Regions from separate parts of the Homo sapiens genome. Here region 1 is linked to region 2. Evidence: fine-mapped expression QTL. A gene starts in region 2. The other region holds a variant in brackets. All regions are shown on one strand. Distances are between the middles of the regions. Region 1 overlaps TTC39B (tetratricopeptide repeat domain 39B). Region 2 holds the start of TTC39B (tetratricopeptide repeat domain 39B).

The links. PIP is the estimated chance that this variant, and not a neighbour inherited with it, causes the effect.
Region 1: its variant is the best candidate, but not a certain one, in a credible set for the expression of TTC39B in whole blood (INTERVAL, PIP 0.56).

Annotation. Positions count from the first base shown.
Region 1 is chr9:15,166,819-15,171,349 of GRCh38, forward strand. It overlaps TTC39B (tetratricopeptide repeat domain 39B), which reads right to left. Exons shown (of 20, transcript NM_152574.3): 20 at 1-4,531. Among named protein-coding and RNA genes, the nearest start is that of TTC39B, 140 kb to the right of the region's middle. The variant C/T (reference allele first, on the strand shown) is at 1,854.
Region 2 is chr9:15,305,011-15,309,251 of GRCh38, forward strand. It overlaps TTC39B (tetratricopeptide repeat domain 39B), which reads right to left and starts at 2,206. Exons shown (of 20, transcript NM_152574.3): 1 at 2,074-2,206. The coding sequence starts at 2,115. RefSeq lists enhancers at 844-1,407, 1,971-2,533 and silencers at 1,771-2,090, 2,121-2,460.

The DNA.
Region 1 (4,531 bases), 140 kb before region 2:
GTAGTTTTGTATATAGCTATCTATAGATACATGTATCTTATGAAGAAATATCTGAAGAGATTTAAAATGTCTTAATTATATATATGCATATCACTTAGGTATCATACACATTCAAAAATAAATTATTCTCTAAATGGGTAACATGTGTCCACAAACCTTTATTTTATATATATATATATATATATATATATATATATATATATATATATATTTTTTTTTTTTTTTTTTTTTTTTTTGAGACAGGGTCTCACTCTGTCACCTGGGGTGGAGTGCAGTGGCATGATCTTAGCTCACTGTAGCCTCAAACTCCTGGGATCAAGCAATTATCCCACCTAAGTCTCCCTAGTAGCTAGGACTACAAGTGCACTCCACCATGCACGGCTCATTTTTTTTTTTTTTTTTTTTTTTGTAAAGACAGGTTCTCACTGTATTGCCCAGGCTGGCCTCAAACCCCTGGTCCCAAGTGACGCCCCCCAACTTTGGCTTCCCAAAGTTTTAGGATTACAGGCGTGAGCCACCATTGCCAGCCTCTAAAAACCTTTAAATAGTAATACTGGCCTAGTTGAGAAAGTCAGTGTTGAAACATTAATAACAAAGCAATGGAAAAGATTCCACTAGATTTCTCAGAATAATTTTATCTTAGAAAATATTGGGCCAGGCATGGTGGCTCACGCCTGTAATCCCAGCACTTTGGGAGGCCAAGGCGGCCAGATCACCTGAAGTTGGGAGTTCGAGACCAGACTGACCAACATGGAGAAACCCCATCTCTACTAAAAATACAAAATTAGCTGGGCATGGTGGCACATGCCTGTAATCCCAGCTACTTGGGAGGCTGAGGCAGGAGAATTGCTTGAACCTGGGAGGCAGAGGTTGCAGTGAGCCTAGATCGTGCAATTGCACTCCAGCCTGGGCAACAAGAGCGAAACTCTGTCTCAAAAAATATATATATTAATCATGAAATCTATCTTCTCAAAGATGTGAATCACTCTTCTATAACTCTAACAACTGTACTTTGTAAAAAAGAATGTCTGTAAAATCAAATTAAAATCATCATCTCAAAAATAAAATTTCTTAATCTAGTACATAAGGAGTTTGGCGGAGGGAGGGCAGAATAATGTTCAAATATGCCAATGACACTGACCATCTGCAGATAAACACGATCAAATGAAAGTTTAAGGGCACTTTAAATAGAAAAAGCAAACTTCACAGATATGTATGTGAAGCACAAATCAGGTGATCATAGTAGACAGCAAGTAAAAGCCAGAACTCCGCAAAGCAGGCTATTGGGAGGCCTTTAAGAAGTGCAGCACGTATGAGTGAATGCTTCCTCAGCATTCAGCACCATTCCCACATGTGCTGTAAGCCATTCCGGGTGCTCCGCAGCCATGTGTGGCGAGGGGCTACTGTACTGGACAGAGCAAGACTGAGGGGAAACAACACGGTTTACAGGCTCATGAGGGCAAGGTAATTTTCTAAGATCCATTCCAGGCCCAAGGAATCACAAAATCTTAGGGTATTAAAACATCACTGGAGTCTTCGTCAACTCATTTTAACTAAATGTATTTGAATTTAAGATTTCTAAATATGCAGAGTATAAATACAAAAAAAAAAAACAGAAATGGAGGGAAATGAATGAAGCATTAGATAATTCCAGAAGATTTTCCAGTTAGCCACAAAGATCTTTTTAAAAATTATTTTTAATGTCCAAGCTGGAGGAAAACCCTCCTATTTATGAAGATCAACAGACTAGACTCACTTTAAAAAGGAGTGGATCACGAGTTCAGGAGATCGAGACCATCCTGGCTAACACGGTGAAACCCCGTCTCTACTCAAAATACAAAAAATTAGCCAGG[C/T]GTGGTGGCGGGCGCCTGTAGTCCCAGCTACTCGGGAGGCTGAGGCAGGAGAATGGCGTGAACCTGGGAGGAGGAGCTTGCAGTGAGCAGAGATTACGCCACTGCACTCCAGCCTGGGTGACAGAGCGAGACTCTGTCTCAATAAAATAATATTAAATTAAAATAAAATAAAAGGAGTGGAAAGTATTAACACCGGGGATTGTTAGTGTCTATCACAACTACCTCTAATAGTAGCTTTGAAAGAGAAAACATTCACTTTTATTTGAAATGGTAGGGGGGGAGCATTTTTTCTTTACACACTCCCTGCTGATTTGAAGCCCTAATAAAAGAATCATAGAGTGACCTCAAAGTTCAACTAGTCTAAGCTTGCAGGACAGGCAGAAATGACAGTCACATTAGCCCTGCTTAAACTCACCCCTTTGCAGAAGAACTGGTTATTGATTTTAGACTGTTGGGTTTTCCGATAATGAAAAATCTTCCTCGGCACTGATTAATCTGGAATTCAGCTTCCTACAGCCTTTATCCACTTGTCTCATTTCTGCCCTCTGAGGATAAAGACAGGATCAATGGACTTAATTTTCCTATATAACTTGGAAACTTCTTGTATCAGGGAGCATAGAAAACATTAACATATATGTCCAGATAAGAGCTGATACAGTTCACCTTTCATTCCTTGTCAGGGGGAAATCATGCCTTCCTTGTCACCATTCCTACAAAGCACAAAGTTACTTAAATTTATACAGCACCAATCAGAACCCTGCCTCTCCATTAAGGAAAAAAAAAAGGCAATTATGCCAGGAACTACATGAATTGCACTGTCAGACACAATGGCAACCCAACCCCATCATAAATGCCCCTCAAAAAACTAGATAAAACTGTCACTTCAGTATTCATTCTTCACAGAACACCCTAATGACTCCAAAATGCAATATTAGCTGATGCCCAAGAAGTTGGTGCCACTACAATATCTTGAACATAGCAGGAAACATAAATATTTGTAGCATTTTGATATTACAGTACTAAAAGATCCACTGGATATACTGTCCATAGTATCAGGTAACTGCATAAAGAATAGGAAACAAAAATAAAACAAAATATAAATAACAAAAAAGATTTTTAAATGGAGATGAATTTCTTTTATATTTGTTTAGTAATGCAGAGTTAAAATAAAAATGGCCACTCTAAGCTTAAAACTGTTTCATTTTATCCCCAAAAGAGAATTTGTTACTGACTTGCAGCACTGACTTGCAGCTTCTCACAGTAACAATGTAAGAATATATGCTCAGTATACCCACAGTCACAATGTGAGTGTGCGCTTTCAAAAATAATGTTACCAAAGCTCTTCTAAGAGCTTTTTTCCAAAAAGCTTTTTTTGGAAAACTTTTTTCCAAAGCTATACACAAATAATTTTTAATGTATTTTCCACTACTAATTATAATGACAGTTAATTTTATTTTCTATTTTGTCTGTACCTAAAGTTGTATTACTAATAACACATTGATATCTACCGCCATTGATATCTATCTTTCATTGGATATACATCCTCAGTGTTGGTCAAGAATCAGTACCTTGAAGAAAACAAGCCACACACTGCTTGATACAGGTCCATGTGGCAGGGAACGGCAGGAGCAGGTTCATATAACCTGGGTAGCCTACTGTCAACATCAAACACATGAATACACAGTAAGGTATTTGAATTTCTACACTTCTTTCATTTTACAACACAAACCACAGTATCAGCCAATACTTTTGTGTTGATACTGTAATCCAGACATAAAAAACCATAATTATTATAATAATTCATACTTTTGTATAGCCTTTTACAGTTTACAAAAAGCTATCATATGTTTTATCTAATTGAGCCCTCACAAGTACCAAATACCACACCGCTATCCATAGTGGGGCAACTGAACCCCTGAAAAGCTGAGCTACGTACTCCGTGTCATGGAACTATTAACCCACAGAGATGAACTCGTGACTCCCAATATGTGGCTCCTTCTGTTAAACTGCAGAGGCTTCTATGACAAGTTATTCTTCAAAATGGAAATAGAAATAAGGCCCAGATTCATCAACTCATAAATTGTCTTTTCTCACTCTGGATGCCACAACACATACATGTGGGGAGTTGGGGGCAATGATGATGATTGAAAAATAAAACACTCCAAGTGGGAATGGTTTGCATTCGACATTTTAAAGTCATTTGTTGAAAATAAATACCTAATACATAGACTCACAGTTATAAAACTGAAAAAGACCTTGAAAGTCATCTGTTCTTTAATCTTGATTTCACAGAAGAAAATGTGGTGACACACAGGGCACAGTGGACTCCCTAAAGGTCTCCTCACTAATCGCTAATGGGTAGCAGAACCAGGACCATATGGAGTGTCAAGCTCTCTTCTGCTCTATGCCCTGATTCTGTTTCCCAACTAAAGGACTAAGCAAGGTCCAGATTATCTACAAGGAGACATCACAGTGCTAGAGAGATTAGAAAACTAGGTCTTACCAACATCTTAAGTGTAAAAATTATTGATATTTTACATATCATTTAAAGCAGCAGGAAATTTACTTCCTAGAAGAAAAATAATCCATGTATGTATTTTAGGCTCTCATTGCTAAGGTTAAGAAAAATTCCTAAAATATGACACTTCCTTCCCTTTAGATACACAGGGGTTTTGAAT
Region 2 (4,241 bases):
ATATCAAATAAAGACTATCAGACTCTTCTTAAATACGTGAAAAGCTTCCTAGCTGAAATAAGCTATTTGCGCACCCAGTAAAATTGAAGAGCAGGGTCTTATGAACTCGAGGTTAGAGTTCTTCAAGCCCATTTACGGTAAGGGACTTTCTACAAATAAATCAAGGGTATCCAGTCTACAACACACTACTTCTTACTTGCTTACATTTACTTGAGCTCCTTTTTAGAGTTCTTGTACCCAGGTCATATCTCCCTAATCAGACTGAGAACCATAAAGAGGCAAAACTATGCCTTCTCTAAGGCACCTACCAAGTTTGAGCCCAAAGTAAATGCTCAATAAACGCTTGCTCAGTTTATAGCAATGGAAGTGGTAAACTGTGAGGGACAAAAGTAAATTTGGCATGAACAAAGAATTCAATTTGTATTTTGCTCATCAACTAGGACTAGTACAGTACCTAGCATGTAACAGAAGCCTAATAGTTAATGAATGAAGAAAAATAAATGAATGATATGGCAAAAACTGAGTTGTTATTAAGCAACATCTTTTCTGCAGTCTTTCATTCATTCAACAAATATTTATTTACCAAGTATCTGTGTGCCAGGCTCTCTGCTACTCTGAAACCTAACTTCCACCCAGAGTTTCACCCACAGAAACCTAACTTCCCTCCTCATCGGCTAATGCATCTCAACCGTTCATCTAGTAGGCAGTGAGCATAGCTGGGGTGACCATTTGTCAAAGTATCTCCGAAACAGTCCCAGTTTACACCTATTATCCCAGTGTTAATTAATAATAGCACCGCCTCAACAATGCCCTAATCTAGAGAATTACATAGTTCTAAGCACAGCAAATCTCCTACAAACAGATCGGGATTCAAATATTTCATTCTACAGTCTTGGGATCCTCAATGCAAGGGACAGGCTGTAAGCAAGGGTCTGGACAGCCCGGCTTGCCCTCTTGTCTCTCTGTCATGCAGAGGAGCTGTAGTTCAGTTTTTGTTTTTTGTTTATTTTACGGAGCACATTTAAAGTATAGTCTTCCTTGTCAGGAGATTCCTGGCACTAAAGAGATGGACGGGAAACTTAACCGCCTCCTCCAGATCGTCCACTATTGCATCATTTGAAACCAAAGCCTTCTAAAGGCAGCGACTCGCACAATTCAAGTCAGGTAAGATGGCAGGAACAGCAGCTGTGGGTGCTGGCTGCTGCTGGAGCCTCGGTCTCAACTTCAAGAGCAGGGAGAGCGCTGTCTCTGGAGTTGCCAGGTGCTGAAATGAATAGTCAATAAATCAACAGGTCCGGCGCGCTAGCCCCTGGGTGCTCAGGCCCGGGCGCGCCACGACTGAAGGAGTGGCTAATTACTCAAACACAGTTGAAACCAAAGGAGGCCGGAGTCGGTTCTCAAAGTGGTTTCCCTCCGGCCACCACCGACTCTGAGGACCTGCTAGGGGAAGTGTCCCGGCCCCGTGGAGGGAGAGGGAAGCACCACAGCCTGGGCTGCGGCTCTAGCCCTCCAGCCCCAGCCCCTGGCAGCCCTGCCCTGCTGTCGCGGCAGGTACCCCTCTACTCATTGTTCCTCAGGCTGCCCCCTCTTTTCATCAATCGTAAGCCTTTCGGTTCTGCCACCAGGAAACTTCCATAGAAGGTGAGATTCCCAGGTCGAGGGATGATTCCACGAACACCCAGAGAGCCAGTGCCAGGACTTCAGGGTCAGACTTCGTAAAGCCCAGGCGTCGCTGGGCCGGCCCGGAACAGCTCAGAGCTGCGGGTCCTATGGTCCCGCGCCCTCACGCCCATCCAAGTGCTGGCAGGACGTGGGTCCTCCATCCCCACGACTCGCGGGGCCGGCGCTCCGAACCTCGGCACTGCGTCCGCTCCGCGCGCCGCAGGGACCCTCCTAGCTCCAGCGGGGACAGACCTACCAAGGCCGGGCGCCCCCACCCGGCGCCCGCCAGCCCACCCCAGAGAGGGGACCAAGGGGGCGGGGCCTCGGCCGTCCTAGCCGGGCTCACTCTTCTCTCCCGGACTCCTGTCCAGGGCTTCAGGGGCCGGGCCCGCAATCCCCATCGGATCGTACCTCGTCCGCTTCCAGCTCCGCTCGGCTGCCTAAGAGCGCCATATTCCTCCTCTGGCTGCTGCCACCCAAAAACCAAGCAGGGAACTCAGAGCCGACTCCTGCTCTCGGCTCTGGGCTCAGCCCAGCGCAAAGGAGGGCAAAAGGGGACGGCCCGGCGCTCCCTCCGGGTCTCGGGCGGGGCCTGAGTGCAGCTACTCGATTTCCCCGCCCCCGGAGCCGGCAGGCCAGCACAGCATCCATTTCCTCCCCGGACGCCGCGCCGCTGGCCGGGCCACTTGCCCGGCCCCCAGCGGGCGGCAGCCCCGCCCAAGTGGGTGGAGTCACCTCCCAGATAAAGTTTCCCGGTCTGGCACGCCCTCTGGGAGGGTTTCCTAAGCTTTCCTGCCGCCTGTTCTCTGCGGTGGCTGGGCACACCTGGAAAGAAGCTAGAGAGCGCGGGCATGACGAAGCCAAGGTCAAAGCAGCGCCCCACCTGGGGTCCGTGGAAGCATCCACCTGGTCTTTGGTCCGGTGCCAGTCCTTTTCCCTCGCCAGGTGGCCACCGCATCTCGCAGATGGTGTGGCCTGAGGGCAGCCTTGGGTCACGGTCACTGGTCCCCGAGAGGCCTCTGACACACCACCCACCTGGACTGTAGGTGGAAGGACTCTGCTTGCTTCTGTGTTCAAAAAATAGAAAAAAACGCGGGACAGAGATTTATACATATTGGAACTCCTCTACTTCCCCCTACCCGGACAGTGTATTCTCCCCATAGCATCCTGTATTTTGTAACTCCAAACATAGGTGTATAATTCGTGCTTGAACTATAAACTCCATGGGGGTAGGATGCTATCTGTCCTCTTCAAGACTGTATCCCCAACACCCAGAACAGTGTCTTGCACATCGTAGGTGCTCAACAGATATTTGTTGGCTGAGTTTAGAAACTGAACCTTGCTTCTGACATGTAAAATAACTGGAAAATTAAAAGCTAGATCTTTAAGAGTTTGGGGGAGAGAGGTCAGATTTACTTTACATACAGAAAAATGCACCAAGTTAAATGTGTGATTCAGTGACAAGTGTTTACAAAGCATCCCAGTCATAATATAGAACATCCTGAAAAGTTTTCTGTGACCCTTTGCTGTCAATTTCCTACCTCCGCTCCCTAGCCTCTGTCAATCACTGATCTGCTATCAACATCGATTTGCCTTCTCTAGAATTTCATATAAATTTAATTAGAGCATGTGGTCTTCCATGTCTGGCTCATGAAAGGCTATTTAATAGTCATCCAGTGATAACTGTAAAAACAGCTAATAGTTCTTGAGTCCTTACTATGTGCCAGGACTCTACTGAACCTCTTGCATATAGTATTTCATTTATTCTTCATAACCCCATAAAGTAGGGTGCTGTTCTCTTTCAGATGAGTAAACTGAGGCTCAGAGAGTTCAAGTAATATGCCTGAGGCCAGACAGCAGTTAAGTAAGTAGGGATGCCAGCATCTGAACCCCAGCAGTCTAACTCTAGGGCCTAGCTGATAACCATTGCTTTGTACTGTACTGGCTCTAGCCACCCTCCCTCTCTTTCTTTCTGTGTCAGTAGAGCAGTTGTCTGTGCAAGTCCATTACATACATTTTCAGTGAGTCACTTTGCATCCTTAATACTTGCTGTACAATTTTAATGGCTTGGCATGTACTTTTGTACTAGAATAATAAAATGGTTTCTACAGCAGAAACATTGAAAAAATGGGTTAGATCGTGTGATGGTTGCTCAACTCTCTGAATTGTCTAAAAATCCTTGAATTGTGTACTTACAATAGGTGGAACTTATGATTATGTAAATTATATCTTAGTAAAGCTGTTTTAAAAAAACTAGCTGACACAGGCTAGGTGTGGTGGCTCACGCCTGTATGGGATTACAGCACTGGGAGACTGAGGAAGGAGGCTAACTTGAGTTTAGGAGTTCGAGACTAGCCTGAGCAACATAGCAAGACCCAATTTCTAAATAATAATACTTTTTTTTTTTGAGAGACAGTTTCACTCTCATCTCCCAGGCTGGAGTGCAATGGCTCGATCTTGGCTCACTGCAACCTCCGCCTCCTGGGTTCCCACTAATCTGTAAATTGCTTAGAAGGAGGCACTATCTTATTCATCAGTGCAGGTACTCAATAAAAAAGCTCCAGGTGCAGTGGCTCATG